Regions from separate parts of the Homo sapiens genome. Here region 2 is linked to region 1. The links come from fine-mapping of genetic effects on gene expression. A gene starts in region 1. The other region holds a variant in brackets. All regions are shown on one strand. Distances are from middle to middle.

Region 1 (11,853 bases):
CCCGGCTGCACTGCAAGGTGACTGCAACCAGCAGACCCTGTGATGAGAGCCTCTCCCAAGCAGCAATGCAGGTCTGCCCGAGACCCTTCTCCCATGCCTGCCAAGCCATCACGGTCATTCAGGCTGCCCATCTTGTCCCCTCACGTAAAACTTCTATGCATTGGGCAGGGAAAGGGGATGGCTTTGATCCCCTGGCTCATTTGTCCCAGCTCCGTCAGTGTCACTTACGCATGGAGGGGCTCCCAGCTCAGGCCTGTGATCCACTTGCTGTGGCCAGCGAGGGTCCTGCCCACCTGCTTCCCTGTGCTTGGGTCCCAGAGGAGAATCTGAAGGACAGAAGCTCACTGAATAATCCTCCCCAACAGGTCTCTGGCTCCACCAAAATCCCTGCCTACCACTTCCCACCCAACCCTCCCCAAAGACTCCTGAACCTGATTCTGAACTGTCTCCTAGGAAGGCCCCCTTGAGTCTCTGCCTAGTTACCCTGAGAACTACCTACCTGGCCATTCTTGCAGCCTGAGGCCAGCTTCCTGCCATCTGGAGACCAGGATATACTAAGGACCCAGTGTCTGTGTCCTAAGAAAGCAGAGGAGGGAGAAATAAGGGACTACATCTGTCTTTATCCCAAGTGCCCAGCAGTGCCTGTCAGGTGCCAGGTACTCCTTAACCATTTGAATAAATGAATGATTGAACAAAAGGAGCGATGAGGCTTTCTGGGGATGGATAGAATGCACCCCAAGTGTTAGAGCTCTGCATCTTGCTGCATGGATAACACCATCACTCTCTAATGACTCCTTATGTGACACATGCTATGAAGTGTTTTTGTACATGTCATCCCTTGTTATTTCTCACAAGAGCTCTAAGCTATGGAGCAAAGCAAGAATTATCATCCCCATTTTCCAGATGAGAAAATTGAAGCTTAGAAAGGGAACATGCCCTACACACACAAGGTCACTTAACTAATCTGTGGTATAGCAGTGGTTCTTCAAGTGTGGTCGTCAGAGCAGCAGCATCAGCATCTCCTGGGAACTTGTTAGAAATGCAGATTCCCAGGCCCTACCCCAGGCCCAATAGAACTAAACCTCTGGGGGTGGGGCCCAGCAATCTGTATTTTTTTCTCTCTTCTCTTTTCTCTCTCTCTCTTTCTTTCATGGAGTCACACTCCATCACCCAGGCTGGAGTGCAGTGGTGCCATCTCGGCTCACTGCAACCTCCGCCTCCTAGATTCGAGCAATTCTTCTGCCTCAGCCTCCCCAGTGGCTGGGATTACAAGCACACGCCACCATGCCCGGCTAATTTTTGTAGTTTTAGTAGAGATGGGGTTTCACTGTGTTGGCGAGGCTGGTCTCAAACTCCTGACCTCAAGTGATCTGCCTGCCTTGGCCTCCCGAAGTGCTGGGATTACAGGTGTGGGCCACCACGCCTGGCCAGCAATCTGCATTTTAACAAGCCCCTGAGGCGGGGCAATTCTGATTTGTGCTCAAGTTTGAAAACCACTGTGGCAGAGGCAGGATTTAAACCAGGTTCTCCTTGGTAGCAGTCAGTCAGCCTCTCACCATGTCCCATATTGACTCCTTGGTGCAGTTTCTGCTTGTGTCTAAGTGGCTGGCTGGGCTCAAGGACATGGTCTCTACCTAGGAACAGACAGCCGCCAACTGGATATTAAGGGGTTGTAATCTGCAAAGTGAGACCCTCATCTGTATGAAAACAAAAAACGAGCCAGGTGTGATGGCAAGTGCCTGTCATCCCAGCTACTCTGGAGGCTGAAGTAGGGGGACTGCTTGAACCCAGGAGTTCAAGGCTTGAGCCCAGGAGTTCAAGTGAGCTGTGACTGCACCACTGTACTCCATCCTGGTCAACAGAGCAAGACCTTGTCTCAAAAAAAAAGAAGACCCCCTAAATGGCTAATTGCATACTGACCCTTGCATGTGAAATGTGGTGTCTCTGTGCTGAGATCCCAGAAGCGCACGGTGGTGTCTCCAGAGCCACTGGCCAGGTACCTGGGGAAGAAGAGAGGATGCTTGACACTGCACATGTGCATTTGTGCCACCTATTCAATCACTTTCTGTGAATAGAATATGGAACTGGACTCTTTCCTCGCCCCTGGAAGGGAGAAAGACAATACTGATGCTGTCCTCTGGGAGAATACATCAGGAGGCCATTTCTTTCCTCTCCACAGCTATAACCAGCTTTTGAAGCTTCTCATTACCTTTCTAAGTTTGAGAGAAGCAACTAATCCCAGTTTCACAGATGAAAAATTAACTCGGAAAGGTTAAGTGATTTATACAAGTCACACAGCTCAGATCTTGAAAAATCAAGTCTAGGAGAGGTTTGTCCAAGGCAGGGGTCCTTAAGCAGCCTTTGGGGACCATGCCCTACTGAGGAAGTCCCTTAATTGCAAGCTGAGTCCAGAGCTTGGGTCTATGGTAGGCAGCCCTGAGGCCCCATCAATTATAACTCTGGGAGACCCTCCCCAAACCAGGCAAAGACTGCACCCCCACATACCCCCTCCATGAGTCTGCAGCTGTCCTTACTTTCCCGTAGGGCTGAAGGCCACAGAAATGACTGCCTCACTGTGACCCTCCAAGGAGCTGGTGCAGCGAGTCACAGCCCGGACTCTGAAGATAGCCTGTGGCTGGTAGATGATGTCTAGGACCTTCTCTGTCTCCACTGCCTGGGACTCCAACGTCTTCCCCAGTGAGGAGACGATCTCAGCATCGTGGACAAAGAAAGCCAGTGGCAGGGGATCCTCCTGAAGGACAATGGTAAAGGACAAACCCGCAACAATGGATGTGCAGGGGCACCCTCTGCCAGGGATGCTCCCCACTGAGCTGTGGGAGGTGAAGCTTCTTCTTTTCAGCCATCGTGCTAGGGATACCCCCATCATTGCCCATTGAGCAAGACCTTTTATTTATTTATTTATTTATTTTTGAGACAAGAGTCTCGCTCTGTCACCCAGGCTGGAGTGCAGTGGAGCAATCTCTGCTCACTGCAACCTCCGCGTCCTGGGTTCAAGAGATTCTCCTGCCTCAGCCTCCCGAGTAGCTGGGATTACAGGCACCCATCACCACGCCTGGCTAAGTTTTATATTTTTAGTAGATACGGGGTTTCGCCACATTGGCCAGGCTGGTCTCAAGCTCCTGACCTCAGGTGATCCACCTGCCTCGGCCTCCCAAAGTGCTGGGATTACAGGCGTGAGCCACTGTGCCCAGCCTAGCAAGACCTTTTAAGTCACTGAACAGCAGTTGCAGGACACTTACACAGCACTTGGAAATTCTTTTTTCTTTTTTTTTTGAGATGGAGTCTCGTTCTGTTACTCAGGCTGGAGTGCAGTGGTGAGATCTCAGCTCACTGCAACCTCTGCCTCCTGGGTTCAAGCAATTCTCCTGCTTCAGCCTCCCGAGGAGCTGGGACTACAGGCGCCTGCCACCACGCCTGGCTAATTTTTGTATTTTCAGTAGAGACTGTTTTCGCCATATTGGCTAAGCTGGTCTCGAACTCCTGACCTCTAGTGATCTGCCCACCTCAGCCTCCCAAAGTACTGGGATTACAGGCATAAGCCACTGCACCCGGCCTGAAATTCTTTATCTGCATCTCATAACAACCGTGGGAAGTAGATACTAATATTCCCACTGACAGTTTTCAAAAGCAGAGGCTCAGAACAACTAAGTAATTAGTTCAATGTCCTATTGCCAATGATTAATTCAGGTTCTTTACGTCCAAGATAGGATTAGCATATAGCATTATGCAGTGTTTCCCAAACTACCACACTACACTATATTTGTGTAAAAAGCTCCCAAAACGCCTGTTAAAAAATGTAGACTTTCTGCTTCATCCCAGAGTTTGGTTTAGTAAGGCTGGGATGGGGTCCAGGAACTGCAATTTTAAGGACCTCCCCTGTCCCCAGGGCAGCTCTTCAGTAAACACACTGGCTTAAAGGTTAAAAGCAAAGGCCGGGTGCGGTGGCTCACGCCAGTAATCCCCAGCACTTTGGAGGCCAAGGCGGGAGGATCACGAGGTCAAGAGATCGAGACCATCCTGGCCAACGTGGTGAAACCCAGTCCCCACTAAAAATACAAAAATTAGCTGGGTGTGGTGGCGCGCGCCTGTAGTCCCAGCTACTCGGGAGGCTGAGGCAGGAGAATCGCTTGAACCTGGGAGGCAGAGATTGCAGTGAGCAGAGATCACGCCACTACACTCCAGCTTGCCAGCCTGGCGACAAAGTGAGACTCCGTCTCAAAAAAAAAAAAAAAAAAGGTAAATAAATAAATAAATAAAAGCATGGGTATTCGGATAGTTTTGGGTTCCAATTCCAAATCTGCTACCTACTACATAGCATCGTGCAAAATACTGAGTCCCTCCGGGCCACGCTGTAAAATGGGGATATTAACGTGTCCCAGACTGGGGGACTGTGACAAAGAATCAATGAAATACAGCATCCGGTGCGTTCAAAGCTAGGCCCCTCTCCGCAGGTGGACCCCTTTGGTTGGCGTGTAAAGCGCTATGCCACTGATTCCATCTCTGACATAGGTGGGAGCTCACGCCAGGTGGGTCACCACAGTCCGTTAGCGGGGGACCATGAACCGCAGACCCTCGGTAATATGATTCCCCCACCGCATCCGCCCGGGGGTGGAGATGCGAGGCCGCCCTGGCCAGCCACTTACCTGGGCCAGTAGCGCGTTGCACACGAGCTGCAGCCTGTCCGGGGTGATGTCCACGGGCACGTCGAACGGGGAACCCAGCAGCTGCCCGCCCTCATCCTGGAACTGCACTAGCAACCGCTGCACATCGCGCGCCACCGCCTCGTCCTGCGCGAGCAAGTGGGGCGGGAGTCAGTCTGGTCGCCCGCCCAGAAGGGCCCCACTTCGCCTCTCTCAGGCCTCAGGGACCCGGGCCCTAGCGCCCCGCGGCGACGCCCCCCGCCCCCATCCACGCACACCCACCGGCACTGCTGCCGCCATCCTGCGTCCCCACGTGGAGGAGAAAGAGCCCGGCAGACAGAGCGCCGTCTCCGTGGTCGGGCGGGGTCGCCGCCGGCCACATCGCCCTCTGCTGTTGGGGAGGAGAAGCGTCCCGCTGCGCACGGCCTCAGGGATTAGAAATGGGCTTACCTGGTGCTCCTCCCGCCCCTCAACAGCCTTCACATTTATTTTTCGCCAGGGTCTTAGAGGACACAGTAAACTTTTGACTCTTCACAACAGGGATTCTTGCCCCATTTTAATTTAATTTCATTTTGAGACAGAGTTTCACTCCGTCGCCCAGACTGGAGGGCAGTGGTGCCACCACGGCTCACTGCAGTCTCGAACTTTCTGGCACAGCGATCCTCCCACCTCAGCCTCAGAGTAGCCTGGACTACAGGCACATGACACCCTGCCCGGTTATTTTTTTCTCATTTTTTGTAGAGACGAGGTCTCACTATGTTGCCCAGGCTGGTCTCAAACTCCTGAACTCAAGCAGCAAGTCCCCCACTCCCCAGCCTCAGTGTCCCAAAGTGCTGGGATTACAGGTGTGAGCCACCACGCCTAGCCTAGAAATTAGTATCCTTTTAAAAATGGATCAAGTCAAGGCTGGGCGTGGTGGCTGACACCTGTAATCCCAGCGCTTTGGAAGGCCCAGGCGAGCAGATCACTTGAGTCCAGGAGTTCGAGACCAGCCTGGCCAACATGGTGAAACCAGGTCTCTACTAAAAATACAAAAAAATTAACCAGCCGTGGTGGCATGCGCCTGTGGTCATAGCTACTGGAGAGGCTGAGGTGGTAGATTCTCTTGAACCTGGGAGGCAGAGGTTGCAGTGAGCCGAGCTCTCACCACTGCACTCCAGCCTGGATGACAGAGCAAGACTCTGTCTCAATAAATAAATAAATAAATAAATAAATAAATAAATAAATAAATAAATAAAATGGATCAACTCAATAATACTCGAGTACAAAAGCAAATCATTTCTACAATCATCAATGCTGTAAAGCAATAATAGTGATAATGACATCAACAAGTCAGGAATTGTTCTAAGTGCTTTCCCACATAACTCATTTAATTCTTACAACCCTTTTCTCCCCATATTACTGAGGAACTGAAGCAGACAGCAATGAACTTGAGCTCTTTTGCCTGAAACGAAGGATCTCCCTTGCCAACTCTCCTCTCTCTCCCTCCACTGCTCAGGCAGTCTCAAGCTCTGCCAAGTCATCCTCATGAACACAGCTTGAATCTGCTCTCCCCATCTCCACTGCCTCACTCTGGTCAGAGTCACCATCATCACCTGCCTGGACCGCTACAACAGCCTCCCGATGAGCCCCCCCATTTCCATTCCTGCCTCTTTCTACCCATTCTCCACGATGCAGCCAGGGTTATCTTTTCAGACCAAAAATCTGGCCTGCTGCTCTTCACCCTCAAACCCTGCGACGGCTCCCTTACATGCAGGAAAAAAAGAACACTCCTTATAATGGTCAATTCAGCCTTGCTATGTCCAGCCACCCCTCTCTTTAGGTTAAATCTTGCTGGCTTTTTCTGAGTTCTTACAAGGCATGGCTCTTCCTGCATCAGTGATTTTGCCCATGCAGTTTTTTCTGTCTGGAACTGTTATGGAGTGAATTGTGCCCTTCCCCTAATTCAAGCTTGTCCAACCCCTGGGCCACAGGCTGCATGCAGCCCAGGATGGCTTTGAATGCAGCCCAACACAAATTCGTAAGCTTTCTTAAAACATTATGAGATTTTCTTTCGATTTTTTTTTTCAGCTCATCAGCTATCATTAGTGTATTTTATGTGTAGCCCAAGGCAATTCTTTTTCCACTGTGGCCCAGAGAAGCCAAAAGATTGGACGCCTCTGCCCTAATTTATATATTGAAGCCCTAGCTCTGAATGTGGCTGTATTTGGAGATAGCATATATTATTATTATTGTTTTTTTTTTTTTTTTTTAGAGACAGGGTCTCACTCTGTTGCCCAGACTAGAGTGTAGTAGTGTGATCATAGCTCACACAGCTTCAAACTCCCAGGCTCAAGTGCTCTTCTTACCTTAGTGTTCTGAGTAGCTAGGACAACAGGTGTGTGCCACTATACCTGACACTCGGCTAACTTTTAAAAATTTTTGTAGAGACAAGGCTGTCACTCTGTTGCCTAAGCTGGTCTCGAACTCTTGGCCTCAAATGATCTTCCTGTCTTAGGCCTTCCAAAGTGCTGGGATTACAGGTGTAAGCCACCATGCCTGGCCTGGAGATGGGCCCTGAAAGGACATAGGAAGGGTTAATAAGTGAGTTTGTATGGGTAGGACACTAATCAGATAGAACTGGTGCCCTTGTGAAATGAGGAGACTCCAGAGTACTCTCTCTCTGTCTCTCCCCGCCCCCCGCACTGCCTCCCTGAGCACACACAAAGATGAGGCCATAGTAGGACACAGTGAGAAGGTGGCTGTTTGCATCCAGGAAGAGAGGCCTCACCAGAAACCAACCCTCATGGCACCTTGACCTTGGATTTCTCTACTCCAGAGCTGTGAGAAAATAAATTTCTGTTGTTGAAGCCTCCCTGTCTGTGCTATTTTGTTATGGTAGCCAGAGCCAACTAATACAGGAATAGTTCCTCATTCTTCAGGTCTTGCCTTGAATATTTATTCATTCATCCAATAAATGTATTGAGTGCCTACTCTCTGCCAGACGTTGTCGGAGTTCTATGTGTATCAACTCATTTATCACTTACGCAGGGAAACCTTTGAAATGATGTCATATGATGTCATATTTCCCTGTTGTATGTTTTCAAAACATCCTGGTATTCCTCACATTTAGAAATCACAGATCCAGCTGGCACAGTGGCTCACACCTGTAATCTCAGCACTTTGGGAGGCCGAGGTGGGAGTATCACTTGAGCCCAGGAGTTTGAGACCAGACTGGGCAACATGGTGAGATCATGTCTCTACAAAAAAAATAGCCAGGTGGCATGCACCTATAGTCCCAGCTACTCAGGAGGCTGAGATGGGTGAATTGCTTGAACCTGGGAGGTCAAGGCTGCAGTCAGCCGTGATCATGCCACTGCTTTCCACTTGTGACAGCGAGACCCTGTCTCAATTAAAAAAAAAACCAAAACAAACAAACGAACAAAAAAAAGAAATCACAGAATCACAGATCCATGGAATTATTTCATTCATTCATTCATTCAACAAATAGCATTGAGCACCTTCTTTTTATTTTTTCTTCTTTTTTGAGATGGAATCTTGCTCTGTCACCAAAGCTGGAGTGCAGTGGCATGATCTTGGCTCACTGCAACCTCTGCCTCTGGGGTTCAAGTGATTCTCCTGCCTCAGACTCCTTAGTAGCTGGGATTACAGGCACCCGCCACCATGCCCGGCTAACTTTTGTGTTTTTAGCAGAGATGGAGTTTCGCCATGTTGGCCAGGCTGGTCTGGAACTCCTGACCTCAGGTGATCCGCCTGCCTTGGCCTCCCAAAGTGCTGGGATTACAGGTGTCAGCCACTGTGCCCCACACCATTACAAACGCTTGGAATATGTGAGGGAACAACATAGACACAAATCCTTGTCCTCACCAGTGTTCTATGCTTCACAGTTCCTCACACATAATAAATGTTTAAGAAATGTGGGCCAGGCGCGGTGGCTCACGCCTGTAATCCCAGCACTTTGAGAGGCCTAGGCAGGTGGATCACGAGGTCAGGGGTTCAAGATCAGCCTGGCCAACATGGTGAAACTCCATCTCTACTAAAAATACAGAAATTAGCCAGGCATGGTGGTGGATGTCTGTAATCCCAGCTACTCATGAGGCTGAGGCAGGAGAATCTCTTGAACCCAGAAGGTGGAGGTTGCAGTGAGCCGAGATCGTGCCACTGCACTCCAGCCTGGGCAACAGAGCAAGACTCTGTCTCAAACAACAACAACAACAACAACAAAAAGATGTTTAAGAAATGCTTGTGGAATGAATTACTGAATCAGCATTTGAATATAAGATCCCTTGGACCTAAAGTCACAGAACCGCAGGTCTCTGCCAATGTCAGGATCCTTTATCCTATTACCTCATTGCTGCAGAGAGCTTGCCCCACAAAAGGGCCCAGGGCTTGTGATAACATGAAGGCAGGGAATTCATCCATCTATTCATTCATTTATTTGCTCATTCAACAAACATGTGTTAGGGCTGGGCTTTGTGTCCAGCAGGGCGCTACAACTTGTCCAAGGTCATATAGCTGTGTGTCCAAGGTCACAGGTCTGCGAGTAGAATCTAGTATGAATGATTCCACCTGGGATTTTCTTCAGTGTCTTTCTCAGCTCTGGCCAGATAAGTTTGAAGATATGTGTGGGGTGGAGGGGAGAGGGATGAGAGGTGAGTGGAGGAAATCATCATCATGAAGACACCATTCATTCATTCATTCATTCATCCATCCATTCATTCCATTCAGGAAACACACTTCGGACACTGAATGTGCCAGAACCTGTGCAGGAAGGGGGTTGGGGGACAAGCTATATGGGATGCTGTCTTTGCCTTCCAGGAGGAAGCTCACAGCCCAGGCTTGAGGGCACTGAAATGCAGAAGAGTTCTGGGTCCAACTGGGGACAACGTCATAAATTTGCTTCAGGAACTCCCAGTTAGCTAAGGAGAAACATTCCTGCCTCAGGAGAGACCCCTCTGCAATGGTGAATACATAGTTCTTGTCCCAGGAAGACCCCCTTCTGAGGAGGGAGCCTCAGTGTGTCCCAGGATAGTTTCCAGTCGGGTGGGGAGGACCCTTGGTCTCGGGGGAATTCCCAGTCTGACCCAGCCCTTGCCCTAAGAGATCTCAGCCTGATGGGGGATACACAAAGCCCACTCTCTGGGAGCTAACAGTCAGATGGGAGAGGTAGGCTGAATAGATCCACTCTATACACAGGGGGAGGAACAGGAGACCGCATGTGGACCGAAACTAACGAACCACTCACTCACACTAAACTGAGTTAGCAAGTCCTGTTGGTCTTTCTGAAAAGCAAAGACATTTTGAACAGGTGAAAGCAGGGTGGGTTGAGGTGTTGCGCAGAAGTGGAAAAGGGAAGGAACTTTCTTCCCCTGTTCCTTCCCCGCTCCCTCCAGAAAGGTATTTCTGGAACTCTCCAGTTGGTCTGGGATCTGGGCAACTGCTGTGTGTCCCAGTCTGTCAGCCCCTCAGCTGTCACTCTGCTCCCAAAAATAGCAATGGTTGAGGGGAGGGAGAGGAAGCTGTTTATCTGGGATAGATGTGGAGAGGTGCATTAGAGCTGTGCCCAGGGAGGGAGTCTGCTGGGGGGTTCCTGTCCCTTCTGGATCTTTCTGTCACTCTTTGGAATGTTAGTGCCTAAGCCCCCCACCAGGATAACCCAGAGTGGGGTGCTTGGGCGGAGGCTGGTCAGCACCTCCACGTGGTCATGACTGACCAGTCTGGGGAGGGGGAGGGCCCTGAGTATCAGTGACAGACTCCAGGGGCACCTGCCCCTGTGGCCAAATATGGTCCAGAGCCACTGGCTGAGGCAAGAAAATCTCTTGGGTGGGGGCTGGGAGGGGCAGACTGAGGCTGGCTGGCTGGAGGTTGACACAGGAGTGCTCAGGGGAGCAGCATCACAAGAGGGCAGATCGAAAGCATCGTCCTTGCTGAAAAAGTGAGCATGGGCCTGGGGTGTGCCCTGGACTGGGGAGGGAGACGGCAAACTTCTAAGACCTGCAATGAGAGTTCAGGCCTTTGGCACAAACTAAGCAGCTTCGCCTGCTCAGGCTGGGAGGGACAGAGAGTGAGGCACAGGGACTCTCAACTTGGGCCAAGCTCTGAGCAAATGCTATAATGTCCTCATGGGGCAATAGATTTGGGGGTTCTGGGGGTGGGTCCCTTCCAGGCAGAATCCCCACCATCCTCTCTGGTGTGAGGGGACCCTGGAGCTCCGGACCTCAGGCCAGGAGCCCAGCCCTGGGTCTGCAGTGAGGGGCTGACCAGACAGAGCTTCTCCTGTCCCAGCAGATGGCAGAGGTGGAAGCGGTACAGCTGAAGGAGGAAGGAAACCGGCATTTCCAGCTCCAGGACTACAAGGCCGCCACAAATAGCTACAGCCAGGCCCTGAAGCTGACCAAGGACAAGGCCCTGCTGGCCACGCTTTATCGGAACCGGGCAGCCTGTGGCCTGAAAACGGTCTGGGGCAGGGCAGGGCACAGGGTGGGAGTGAGGCAGAGGGGCTTTGGGGCTGAGTGGCAGCCCCTTCACCCTGATAGAAATTGCCCTTCATCCCAGCCGACTCTCCTGGATGCCTGGGGTTGGAGAAGGGTGCCTCCAACCCCCTGACCCATGCCCCGGAAAGACAGAAATTCATCCAGAGCAGAATCAGCCCAATGCCAGGTGCTTTCATGTGTTATTCATGGCATCTTACTAATGGCCCGTGAGATAGCTGTTGTTGTCCTCCCCCTATCGCAGGTAAGAAACTCGGGATCCAGAGGGCTTCATTCATTAACTTGCCCAAGCTCTCCCAAGTAGTAGCAGAGCCGAGATTCAAACCTGGGTTTGCCTGATGTCAAAGCCTGTCCTCTTTGCCATGCCTGTGAGGAGCATGCCCTGGGCCTCTGACAGCCTGCAGCTCCCCCAGGAAACCCTCTCCCCACACTGTGGGGACACTCTCTGGCCATCTCTGCATTGGGCCCACATTAACCGAGTCTCCTTCTCCTTCCCCTTTCCTCAGGAGAGCTACGTCCAGGCAGCTTCAGATGCCTCCAGAGGTGAGCCCCTCCCACCTCCAAGCTTGCCCTGTCACATTCTCCTCTGCATGGCCTGGGTTTTAATCTAGTTACCATTTTGGGGGAAGAAACAGTGAGTATGGAGTGACTTCAGAAGGGAGAGAACAAGCTGGAGAAGGGACTGGAAACATATCCTGTGA
Region 2 (11,128 bases), 28 kb after region 1:
AAAATGAGTCAAGTGTGGTGGCACACCCCTGTAGTCTCAGCTACTTGGGAAGCTGAGGTAGGAGGATCACTTGAGCCCAGGAGGTCAAGGCTGCAATGAGCCTTGAATGCACTACTGCACTCCAGCCTGGGCAAGAGCGTGAGACCCCGTCTCAAATAAAATAAAATAATGTGAAAGCTATTCTCAACTCCCTGGATTTGCCAACTCCTTCTCTACCCCACGGCTTCTGCTCACCCTGACTTTGGTTCACTTAGGTCTTTTCAAGGCTTCTGTCTTTCTCTACCTCAGTTTCAACTTTTCCTGCTGACTTCTTGAGTCCCTCATGAGGTCCCCAACTGACTCCCATTACCTGTCATCCAGCTAGTTCTTGTTTGGGCTTGTTGATTGAGGCTCCCTCCTGTCAGCCTGTGGAATGCTGAGAGGAGGGGTCACTGCCTTCATCAAATGGTGCCCCAGCCTGCCCCTAGCAAGAGTGGAATACATCCCGCTTCATCAGGGGCGGGGGCTGTGTGGGGACCCAGTGCCAGCTCAAAGGTCAGACCGCAACTAATTACGAAGGATGCTGGTTCCCTGGGCACTGAGTGGAGAGATGAGGCACAGGACATGGGATGCTCAAGCTGGAGGGGCTGTCAGAGCTTCCAAAGCTGAGTCCTCTTCCCCAGGGGAACTTGCCTGAGATCCTCCAGCAATCAGAGGCAGACATGGGACCAGAGCCCAGGTCTTGGACTCTTGGTGTGGAGTTCTCCTGACCAGTCCACGCTGCCTTCTTGCATTTATACACAGCTGCATTTCCACTGTGCACATCTGCCCTGTTTCCCACAATGCACCAACCTGGGCAGATGAGAAGCATCAGAAGGCATGTCACCTCTGACATTCCCACGCAGAGATTCTCCCCTAGAGTAGATGATAATAGATTCTGAAAGCAAGGCAGAACGTTCCTGGATATCTAGCCCACATGCTCACCAACAGGGGAAGGGACTAAGACCAGATCACCAGAGGGGAGTGACTGGCCCAGGCCATGTCACAGAGAGACACAGTGTGCCGGGCATCACGCTAGGCCTTTTTGTGTTGTTGTCAATGCTGTACTGTCCTCCCAGACACAGCAGCTGCTGGAAAGGCTGTCAGCTGACAGCTCTCAGCTGTTATCTCTCTTTGGGACTTGTCTCACCTGGGGAGAGCTGTTTCACCCTTCCCAGGGAAGCCAGTATGCAAACACTCACACCAGGCTAGTTGAGGTGACTCAGACCTATAATACCAGTGCTTTGGGAGGCCAGGTGGAAAGATCATCTGAGGCCAGGAGTTTGAGATCAGCTTGGGCAACATAGCAAGATCCCATCTCTACAAAAAAATTTAAACAATTGTCTGAGCATGATTGTGTGCACCTGTAGTCTCAACTGCTCAGGAGGCTGAGGTGGGAGGATTGCTTGAGCTTAGGGGTTTGAGGTCACAGTGAGCTATGATGGCACCAGTGCACTCCAGCAACAGAGCAAGACTCAGTCTCAAAAAAAAAAAAAAGAAAGAAAAAGACTCACTCTAACTTGGAACAACTGTGAAGGGTCTTCCAGCTCCAGAACTTCTTGGAGGCTGAGGCTTTGTGATAGCTGCAAAATGCCTCCCTCTGCCCCAGTCCTGCTTCCTTCTCTTCCCAAGAGCTCTCTCTAATAAACTTCCTGCATGTCAATCCCTGAGTCAGAGTGTATTTCCCAGAGGCACACTCTGTGACACAGCTGTTATGTCATTTATCCTCACCACAACTCTGAGAACTAGTAGTACTATCCTCAGTTTACAGGAGCTGAGGCTCAGAGAGGTTCGCTGAATTGCCCAATATCACACAGCACATGAGTGGTGGAGCCAGGATGCAAATCCAAATCCTACTGCCTCCAAATCTCACACTCTTTCCACTCTCTTGGACCAGTTCTCTTGACCACCCTTGTCCTTTGTTTTAGGGGCAAGTTTGACCCCCAGGACATGGACAAGAACTTGAATGCCATCCAGACAGTGTCAGGGATCCTGCAGGGCCCCTTTGACCTGGGCAACCAGCTGCTGGGACTGAAAGGTGTGATGGAGATGATGGTGGCACTATGTGGCTCAGAGCGCGAGACGGACCAGCTGGTGGCCGTGGAGGCCCTCATCCATGCCTCCACGAAGCTCAGCCGCGCCACCTTCATCATCACCAATGGAGTGTCACTGCTCAAACAGATCTACAAGACCACCAAAAATGAGAAGATCAAGATCCGCACACTGGTGGTGAGTGGGCTCGGTACCACCCTCCTACTCAGTACAAGGTGCCATGCCAGGCACCAGGGACACCAAAATGAATGAGTTGAGGCTGCTGTCCTTGAGGAGACCAGGTTCAAGGGGGCACCAGACCCAGCCACAGACCCCTGCAGAACAGGGCAATATCCAGGGGGCTTGTGAGGATGTAGATTCAGAACCGTGAACTCTGCTGCTTAACCCTGAGGACGTTCGTCTCCCTGCTTATGAACAACATGAACACTGAGGAGCTTGTGTCCAGAATGCATTTTCAGAGCAAATTCTGAAGAGTCACTTTCCTTAATCAGTTTCTATAAGGTATTTTTTTTCCACTTTCATTTTACTTTTTGTTTTTTTGAGATGGAGTCTCACTCTGTCACCTAGGCTGGAGTGTAGCAGCGAAATCTCAGCTCACTGCAACCTCCGCCTCCCAGGTTCAGGTGACTCTTGTGCCTCAGCCCCCAGAGTAGCTGGAATTACAGACGTGTGCCACCACACTCAGCTAATTTTTGTATTTTTAATAGAGACGGGGTTTCGCCATGTTGGCCAGGCTGGTCCTGAACTCCTGACCTCAGGTGATCCACCCCCCTGGGCCTCCCAAAGTGCTGGGATTACAGGCGTGAGCCACTGTGCCTGGCCTGAAATTATTATTATTATTATTTTTTCAGACAGAGTCTCCCTCTGTAGCCCAGGCTGGAGTCCAGTGGCATGATATTGGCTCACTGCAACCCCCATGATCTCGGCTTACTGCAACCACCGCCTCCTGGGTTCAAACGATTCTCCTGCCTCAGCCTCCCAAGTAGCTGGGATTACAGATGCCTGCCACCACACCCTGCTAATTTTTGTATTTTTAGTAGAGATGGGGTTTTACCACGTTGGCCAGGCTGGTCTCAAACTCCTGGCCTAACTGATCCACCCGCCTCGGCCTTCCAAAGTGCTGGGAGGATTACAGGCGTGAGCCACCGCACCCAGCATCAATTTTTTAAAAACAAATTCTAGCTTCTGACAAAAGTGAATTTTCTCTTATGAAACCGCCCCCCTAAGAAAAGTCCAATTTTCTCTGGGTAAAATTTTGCACATCTGAATCTGTTATCCAGAAGATAGGATTTCTCTGTCAGTTTCTGTGCCGTAACAAGGTTCCCCATTGAAGCTTCAGATATGGTTAACTTGGTCTTGCTGGTTTTTCAAAATGGCAGGCACAATACATCTGTGGGGTCAAAATGGTGGGGGAAGGGGGCAGGTCAAGAATTTGCAACTTTATGGGCCTCTACCCTAACCCAGAGCATCAGGGAAAGTATCTCAGCAGAGGTGACACCTGAGCTGAGTTTTACAGTCTGCACAGAGGTGGATCCAAGCAAAGAAAGAGGGGCGAAGTGTTCTGGCCATAGAAACCTGTTTGAGCAAGGCTTCATCCCCAAGCCTTGGTGTCTCTGATCCTGCATGTGTCTGCTGTCTCCTCTCCTCCTCAGGGACTCTGTAAGCTCGGCTCTGCAGGTGGCACAGACTACGGTCTCAGGCAGTTTGCGGAAGGGTCGACAGAAAAACTGGCCAAACAGTGTCGCAAGTAAGGGGGCTGTGTTTCCCAGGCCCTCCATCTCCTCATGCGCCTTCCGGGCAAGAGTCTCTGGGGTGTGCTCTAGTGGAGTGTGAAAGGGACCTCACCCCTGGTTCACCACCCTGAAATCGCTTCACCCTCTTGACCTAGCCCTGGGCCCCTTCCCATGTGTGCTCCCTCCTCACTTCCAGGTGGCTGTGCAATATGTCCATAGACACTCGGACCCGACGCTGGGCAGTGGAGGGCCTGGCCTACCTCACGCTGGACGCTGATGTGAAGGACGACTTTGTCCAGGACGTCCCTGCCCTGCAGGCCATGTTTGAGCTGGCCAAGGCAGGTGTCGGGGAGTCTGGCCCGACCACAAACCTCAGGAAAGGTCTGCTGGGTCCAGACCCACAGGGAATGGATCCCAGTCTTCCTCCTGGCTCTACTCCTTACCCCTGTATAAACATGATTGGTTATTTCCCCCTTTCTGGCCCTCATTTTACCTGATTGTAAAATGGACTCCCGACTCCCAATGCCTTCCAGAGATGGGAAGATGCACAGGAGGGCAGTTTGTTTTCCTGGGGCCCTCAGGAGGTGAGGTCTTGAAGGACCTGAGGCAGCTAAAAAAAAAAAAAAAAAAAAAAAAAGCAGGGCATCGTAGCACGTGCCTGTAATTCCAGCACTTCAGGAGGCTGAGGCGGGCGGATGGCTTGAGCTCTGGGGTTCAGGACCAGCCTAGGCAACATGGTGAAACCCCAACTCTACAAAAAATACAAAAATTAGCTGGGCGTGGTGGCACATACCTGTAATCCCAGCTACTCGGGAGGCTGAGGTGGGAGGATTGCTTGAGCCTTGGGAGATCGAGGCTGCAGTGAGCTAGAATTCCAGCTCTGCACTCCAGCCTGGGTGACAGAGAGAGACCTTGCCTCAAGAAAATAAATAAATAAAAGAGGCTGTGCCTGGCCTTTCTGGGAACCTGCCCTCCCTCCCAGGCCCCCCCAGACTCCTTTCCTCATCTGCTGGGCCAACTCCCTGGCCCTTTTCTACCAGTAAATGGAGGAAGCATGGGAGAGATTTTCACCAGGACCGGAAAATGTCCAGCTCCCACCCCATCTCCAGTTGGATGGGAAAGTGTTAGACTGGGCTTGTGGAAGAGGCGCAAAGCGAGGATCTTTGTGGGACAGCTCCTATTCATACTGTCAGAGCTACTGTGGAGGGTGCAGGAGACACTGCTGCCTGCCTTTATGGGGAGAACCGTTCCTCTCCTGCGCTGCTGTCTTTCCTCAGAATGGGCCCTACCAGCTGCACTCCTCCGACACCAACCTGCCGGCCACGTGAGGGAGCATCCTGGAAGCAGAGGTTTGTCCTAAAGTTTCCTTTCTGCTTTCCCTCTCCCCAACCCTGTGCCTTCCAGACCAGTGACAAGACCATCCTGTACTCGGTGGCCACCACCCTGGTGAACTGCACCAACAGCTACGATGTCAAGGAGGTCATCCCAGAGCTTGTCCAGCTCGCCAAGTTCTCCAAGCAGCATGTGCCCGAGGAACACCCCAAGGTAGGGTCAGGCGCGACCCGGGAGGGGTCTGGTCTGTGCCACTAGGCCTCCAAAGGAGGCGGAACGGCAAAAGGAGTGGTGTCAGGAGTGGCACGGTGTGTGTTTGGGTGGTTGGGGGTAAGATACACATACATTGAATATGTTAATGGTAAACTTTCCC[A/C]CCAGATGGTGCTCATGCTTTTTCTTTGTTTTTATTTTCTATTTTGAAAAAAATCCAACAATTTATAGTCTGAGAAAACAAACAGAGCCATGATGGACACTTTGCAATTTGTGTTGTTGATTTTATGGATAAAAGACAGTTTTATTTCATGTCTCCAACAGATAACAATTTGATTTTCTCAGATTTCTGGATTTTGTGACATGGGTGCTAAGTAGGAATCATGAGAGGAGAGGCATGGTCAGCATTAGCCCAGAAGTCACAGATCCCCTGGAACCCTCTCCAACAATTCCCTGCACATGAAGATATGATTTGTGTGTGATTTGTTTAAGAATATATGCAAGATATTGCCAGCCAATAAAATCATTTAGATTTTTTTAATGATCAAAGTAATATAATCATGCTGCAAAACGAGTTAAAATGTGGGGAAAAGAAAATAACCACTCATGATTACGTCATCTCCACATGACTGCTGTTGGCATTTTGATGTTATGTTACCTACCAGAGGCTTTTTTTCTATGTATCTTTTTTCCTTTCACAGTTATAATTAGAATATATTTATCATTTTGTGCCCAATTTTGGAAAAATATGTTTTTCACATTGCCATCTCATTCTCTGAATCATTTTTATTTTATTTATTTATTTTTTGAGACAGAGTCTTGCTCTGTCACCCAGGCTGGAGTGCAGTGGTGAGATCTCGGCTCAATGCAACCTCTGCCTCCCAGGTTCAAGTGATTCTCCTGCCTCAGTCTCTCAAGTAGCTGGAATTCCAGGCATGCACCACCATGCCCGGCTAATTTTGTGTTTTCAGTAGAAACAGGGTTTCACCATATTGGTCAGGCTGGTCTCAAACTCCTGACCTCAAGTGACCCACCCACCTCGGCCTCCTAAAGCGTTGGGAATCCAGGCATGAGCCACCACACCTGGCCTCTGAATCATTTTTGAAAGCTGCATGATGTTTCATCCAGGCAAGGGTGCAGAGCATGTGCTGTGGCTGTGAAGTTCCAGTGTGGCTTCCAGGGCTTGCCCAGGGTTGTCAGCCCCTTCCCCACCACTCCTCACTCTGAGGATTATCTGTAGGGACTCTTTAACCCTGGGTTGACTTTGGGTTTCCAGCAAACCCAATCCATTGTTATGGCGGCTTCATCCACTGTGTCCTTTCCTGCCTATACCCTCTCTCTACCTCCACTCCCACCTCAGCCTTCTCCAAGAAAAACAATATACGCATCATTTAGTCTTTTGGATTATCCGTCTTTTATTTCATTCCTCTGTGAATGAGAGAATCTTTGGGACTGGTTTTCTACGGTATCAGCTCCTCAGGCTCTGTCTTGGGATTAGGTAAGGCAAGGAAGAAGAGAGGAGAGACAATCACACACGACAGCAAGGCGTGCTGTATACCCCTTGGCAGTTGCTTGGGAAGAGGGAATCTGGAGAAGTGTCTTAGTTTCCTATTGTTTCTAGAACACATTGCCACACGCACTGTGGCCTAAAACGCAATTTTTATACTTTTTTTTTTTTTTTTTTTGAGACTGAGTCTCCCTCTGTCGCCCAGGCGGAGTGCAGTGGTGCAATCTTGGCTCACTGCAACCTCCGCCTCTTGGGCTCAAGCAATTCTCCTGCTTCAGCCTCCTGAGTAGCTGGGATTATAGACACGCTCCACCATGCCCAGCTAATTTTTGTATTTTTAGTAGAGACGGGGTTTCGCCATGTTGCCCAGGCTGGTCTCGAACTCCTGGGCTCAAGTGGTCCACCCACCTCAGCCTCCCAAAGTGCTGGAATTACAGGCGGGAGCCACCACGCCTGGCCCGGTTTTAAAAATCTTATAGTTCTGGAGGTCAAGAGTCCTAAAATGAGTCTCACTCGGCTAAAGTCAAGGTGTTAGCAGGGCTGGTTTCTTTGGGAGGCTCTAAGGGAGAATCATTTTGTTGCCTTTTTCAGCTTCTAGAGGCCACCTACATGCTTTGGCTGGTGACCTTGAACCACTCTGACCTCACTTCCATTCCATTGTTACATCTCCTAGTACTAACTCTGATCTTCCTGCCTCCCTCTTATAAAGATCCTGGTGATTATATTGGGCCCACACAGAAATCTAGGCTTACCCCCTCATCTCAAAATCCTTAACTTAATCGTGTCTGCAAAATCCCTTTTGCCATGTAAGGTCCCACGTTCACAGGTTCCAGAGATTAGGCCATGGATTTTTTTTTTTTTTTTTATACAGAGTCTCGCTGTGTCGCCCAGGCTGGAGTGCAGTGGTGCGATCTCGGCTCACTGCAAGCTCTGCCCCCGGGTTCATGCCATTCTCCTGCCTCAGCCTCCTGAGCAGCTGGGACTACAGGTGCCCGCCACCACGCCTGGCTCATTTTTTGTATTTTCAGTAGAGACAGGGTTTTACCGTGTTAGCCAGGATGGTCTTGATCTCCTAACCTCGTGGTCCGCCCGCCTCAGCCTCCCAAAGTGCTGGGATTACAGGCATGAGCCACTGTGCCTGGCCAGGCCATGGACATCTTTGGAGGCCATTATTCAACCAACCCCAAGAATTCAGAAATGCACCATCTTTGGTTCCAATACCGATTGGCCTGGCACCCAGGACCCTCCCACATTGCCATCTTTTCATCTCCTCAGGACAAGAAGGACTTTATAGACATGCGGGTGAAGCGGCTTCTGAAGGCGGGTGTCATCTCTGCCCTGGCTTGCATGGTGAAAGCAGATAGTGCCATCCTCACTGACCAGACCAAGGAGCTGCTGGCCAGGTGGGGCTGCAGTGGGCCAAGGCTTGGAACTAGGGCTGGGGGCCGAGGGTCCTGGAGTGCAGCACACTGGGCAGGGAGATAGAAATGGTGGGGGCCTAAATGAGGAGATAAACTATTGGGAAAGCCTGGAGAAAGGTCTGAGGGGATCAGCTTTGAAAAGTGACATGGGACCAGGGGTGGTGGCTCATGCCTGTAATCCCAGGGCTTTGGGAGGCCCAGGTGGGAGGATTGCTTGAGCCCAGGAATTCAAGACTAGCTTGGGAAACATATTGAGACCCCATCTGTACAAAAAAATTTTAAATTAGCCTGGCACGGTGGTGTGCACCTGTACTGCCAGCTACTTGGGAGGCTGAGGCAGGAGGATCACTTAAGCCCAGGAATTCAGGGCTGCAGTGAATGATGATGGTGCTACTGCACTCCAGCCTGGGTAACAGAGCAAGATCCTGTCTCTATACAAAAGAGAAATAAAGAAAGAGAGAAAGAGAGAGAGAGAGAGAAAGGAAGGGATGGCGGAAGGAAAAAAGGAAGGAGGGAAGGGAAAAGAAGAAGGGAGGAAGGAGAAAGAAAGAAAAAGAAAGAAAGAAAAAGAAAGAGAAAGAAAGAGGAAGAAAGGAGGGAGGGAAGGAAGGAGGGAAGAAAGAAAGGAGGGAAGGAAGGAGAGAGAGGAAAGAAGGAAAGAAAGAAAGGAAAGAAGAAAGAAAGAAAGAAAGAAAGAAAGAGAAAGAAAGAAAAAAGAAAAGAAAGAAAGGGAAAGGAAAGGAAGGAAGGAAGGAGAAGGAAAGAAAGAGGGAAAGAAGGAAAGGAAGGAAGAGAAGTGGTATGTTGGGCAGGTCATCACAGGTGGAAGTTTGTATCAGGAGAAAGGAGGCCACTGTTCCTTCTTGTTACCTTGTTCTCAGAGATTAAAGGCACAGTCTGTGTGCAGCCTGGCCAGGGAGGCAGGCAAGATCACAGCTACAGTCCGATGCAATGGATGCCATGATGTGGGAAGCATAAAGGGCTGATTGGAGCACAAGCAGTGTTCCCCAACCAGCCAGACTGGAGGGGAGGTGGGTGGGCAGCTGGTAAGGCCTCCTGGGGGATGTGACAACTCAAGCTCTGAAGGAAGCAAAGGAGCCACCTAAATGCAGGAGAGGGAAGGTTCCAGGCAGAGAGAATAGCATCTGCAAAGACACTGAGGATGGAGAGAGAATGAGTGAATTTGGGGTTCTCCTGCAATATGTCTGGGGCAGGGAATCCATAGGAAGAGCTGGTGCTGGATGAGACAAAAGAGGAAGCCAGAGCCAGATCACGGAGGACCTGGGGCACATCCATTGAAGTTGAAAAGCTTCTCCTGGGTGGTTGCATCCCTAAATAGTGATAGTGGGGAGTGCTCTTTGCAGCCTCACTTGGCCTCACTTCCTTCCCAGCCAATTATTCCCATGATGTCATCTTCCCAAAGTGGTTAATTCTGGGGCACAGGCACACAAGTGGCACTTTCCATAGTCTCCCTTTTCATCCCAGGGTTTCACTGGCTCCGACTGGCTGGCCTGCTGCTGCTGCTGCCTGGGAAGGTGTGCTGGTGTATTAACTGTTCTCCTTTCTTCTCGGTCCCACAGGGTATTCCTGGCACTGTGTGACAACCCAAAGGACCGAGGCACCATTGTGGCTCAAGGTGGTGGCAAGGTAACTGGGCAGGTGCCTTCCTAGAAGGTGCCTTTGTGCATGCTCTTTGCCTAGCGCAAGAATTATGTACCCTCTGCCCCAACTCGACCTCCTGGAATACGGCCACCAGTTATCTGCGCTGTCTGTGCTCATAGCCCCAAGCCAATTTCTGCTTGACTTTATGCTATGATGGTATGTACTTTGGAATCCCATCTATCCTCCTTGCTGTTGGAAGGAAGCACCGTGCAAAGACAGACCCTGGACTTTGATGTAGAAGACTTGTAGTTGAGTTCTTGCTCTTCCCATTTCTGACTGCATAACCTCAGGCAAAATACTTAATCTCCCAGCCACAGCTTCTTCATCTGTAAAATAGGGGGAAAATCACACTTTCAATTTGCAGACTGTCACAAGAATTAGAGAAAATATAGAAAGTATTGATTCATGGTAGGTGCTCAATAGATGTCTGATGTTAAGATTGGGTTTGGCTGCAACTCCGTCTCTATTAAAAATACAAAAATTAGCTGGGCCTGGTGGCGTGCACCTGTAATCTCAGCTACTCAGGAACCTGAGGCAGGAGACTTGCTTGAACCCAGGAGGAGGAGGTTGCAATGAGCCGAGATCATGCCATTGCAGTCCAGCCTGGGCAGCAAGAGCGAAACTCTGTCTCAAAAAAACAAAACAAAACAAACAAACAAAAGGATTGAGTTTGGCTTGGGCAGAAAGTAAAAAATTTGTTGATTGAATTATTTATTTTTCCAAAAGCTGAAGGAATATTTAGGTGGGTGGGAGGAAGTGGGGTAAAGACCTGAATGTGCACTGGGAATCAAGAGGAGTGAATATGTGATTAAGGATTTAATTGTTTTCCATGATGTGCAAGGGCTGATTATACGGCAGAATTTTCCTGGACCTCCCATGGGACAGACAGACAGCACCTGGAGCAGGAGGATAGGCGAGAAGCCTCTGGATGTCTGTGACTAAGTAGTGACCTTGCCCTTTCTTGCAGGCCCTGATTCCCCTGGCTTTGGAGGGCACAGATGTGGGCAAGGTGAAGGCAGCCCACGCTCTAGCAAAGATCGCTGCTGTCTCCAATCCGGACATTGCTTTTCCTGGGGAGCGGGTAGGTGCTTGGGTAGATGGGATAGGGCAATGGGAGGGGTCTCCTTTGCTCCTAGAGGCCTTTCCCCTTGTCATTCTACCTCGAGCCTGGGACAGGGGCATGGTGCTGTCAC

Evidence for each region.
Region 2: its variant is fine-mapped to the expression of NLE1 in whole blood (INTERVAL, PIP above 0.99). The same link has a PIP of 0.9 or more in blood mononuclear cells.

What each region holds. Positions count from the first base shown.
Region 1 is chr17:35,137,315-35,149,167 of GRCh38, forward strand. NLE1 (notchless homolog 1) reads right to left here and starts at 4,989. Exons shown (of 13, transcript NM_018096.5): 1 at 4,944-4,989; 2 at 4,665-4,808; 3 at 2,535-2,752; 4 at 1,921-2,000; 5 at 500-576; 6 at 229-326. The coding sequence starts at 4,961. It overlaps UNC45B (unc-45 myosin chaperone B), which reads left to right and starts at 10,503. Exons shown (of 20, transcript NM_001267052.2): 1 at 10,503-10,596; 2 at 10,950-11,117; 3 at 11,659-11,695. The coding sequence starts at 10,950. RefSeq lists an enhancer at 4,420-5,297.
Region 2 is chr17:35,166,115-35,177,242 of GRCh38, forward strand. UNC45B (unc-45 myosin chaperone B) reads left to right here. Exons shown (of 20, transcript NM_001267052.2): 10 at 1,947-2,247; 11 at 3,723-3,817; 12 at 4,000-4,141; 13 at 5,208-5,348; 14 at 8,128-8,255; 15 at 9,854-9,920; 16 at 10,903-11,016. Among named protein-coding and RNA genes, the nearest start is that of SLC35G3, 23 kb to the right of the region's middle. The variant A/C (reference allele first, on the strand shown) is at 5,509.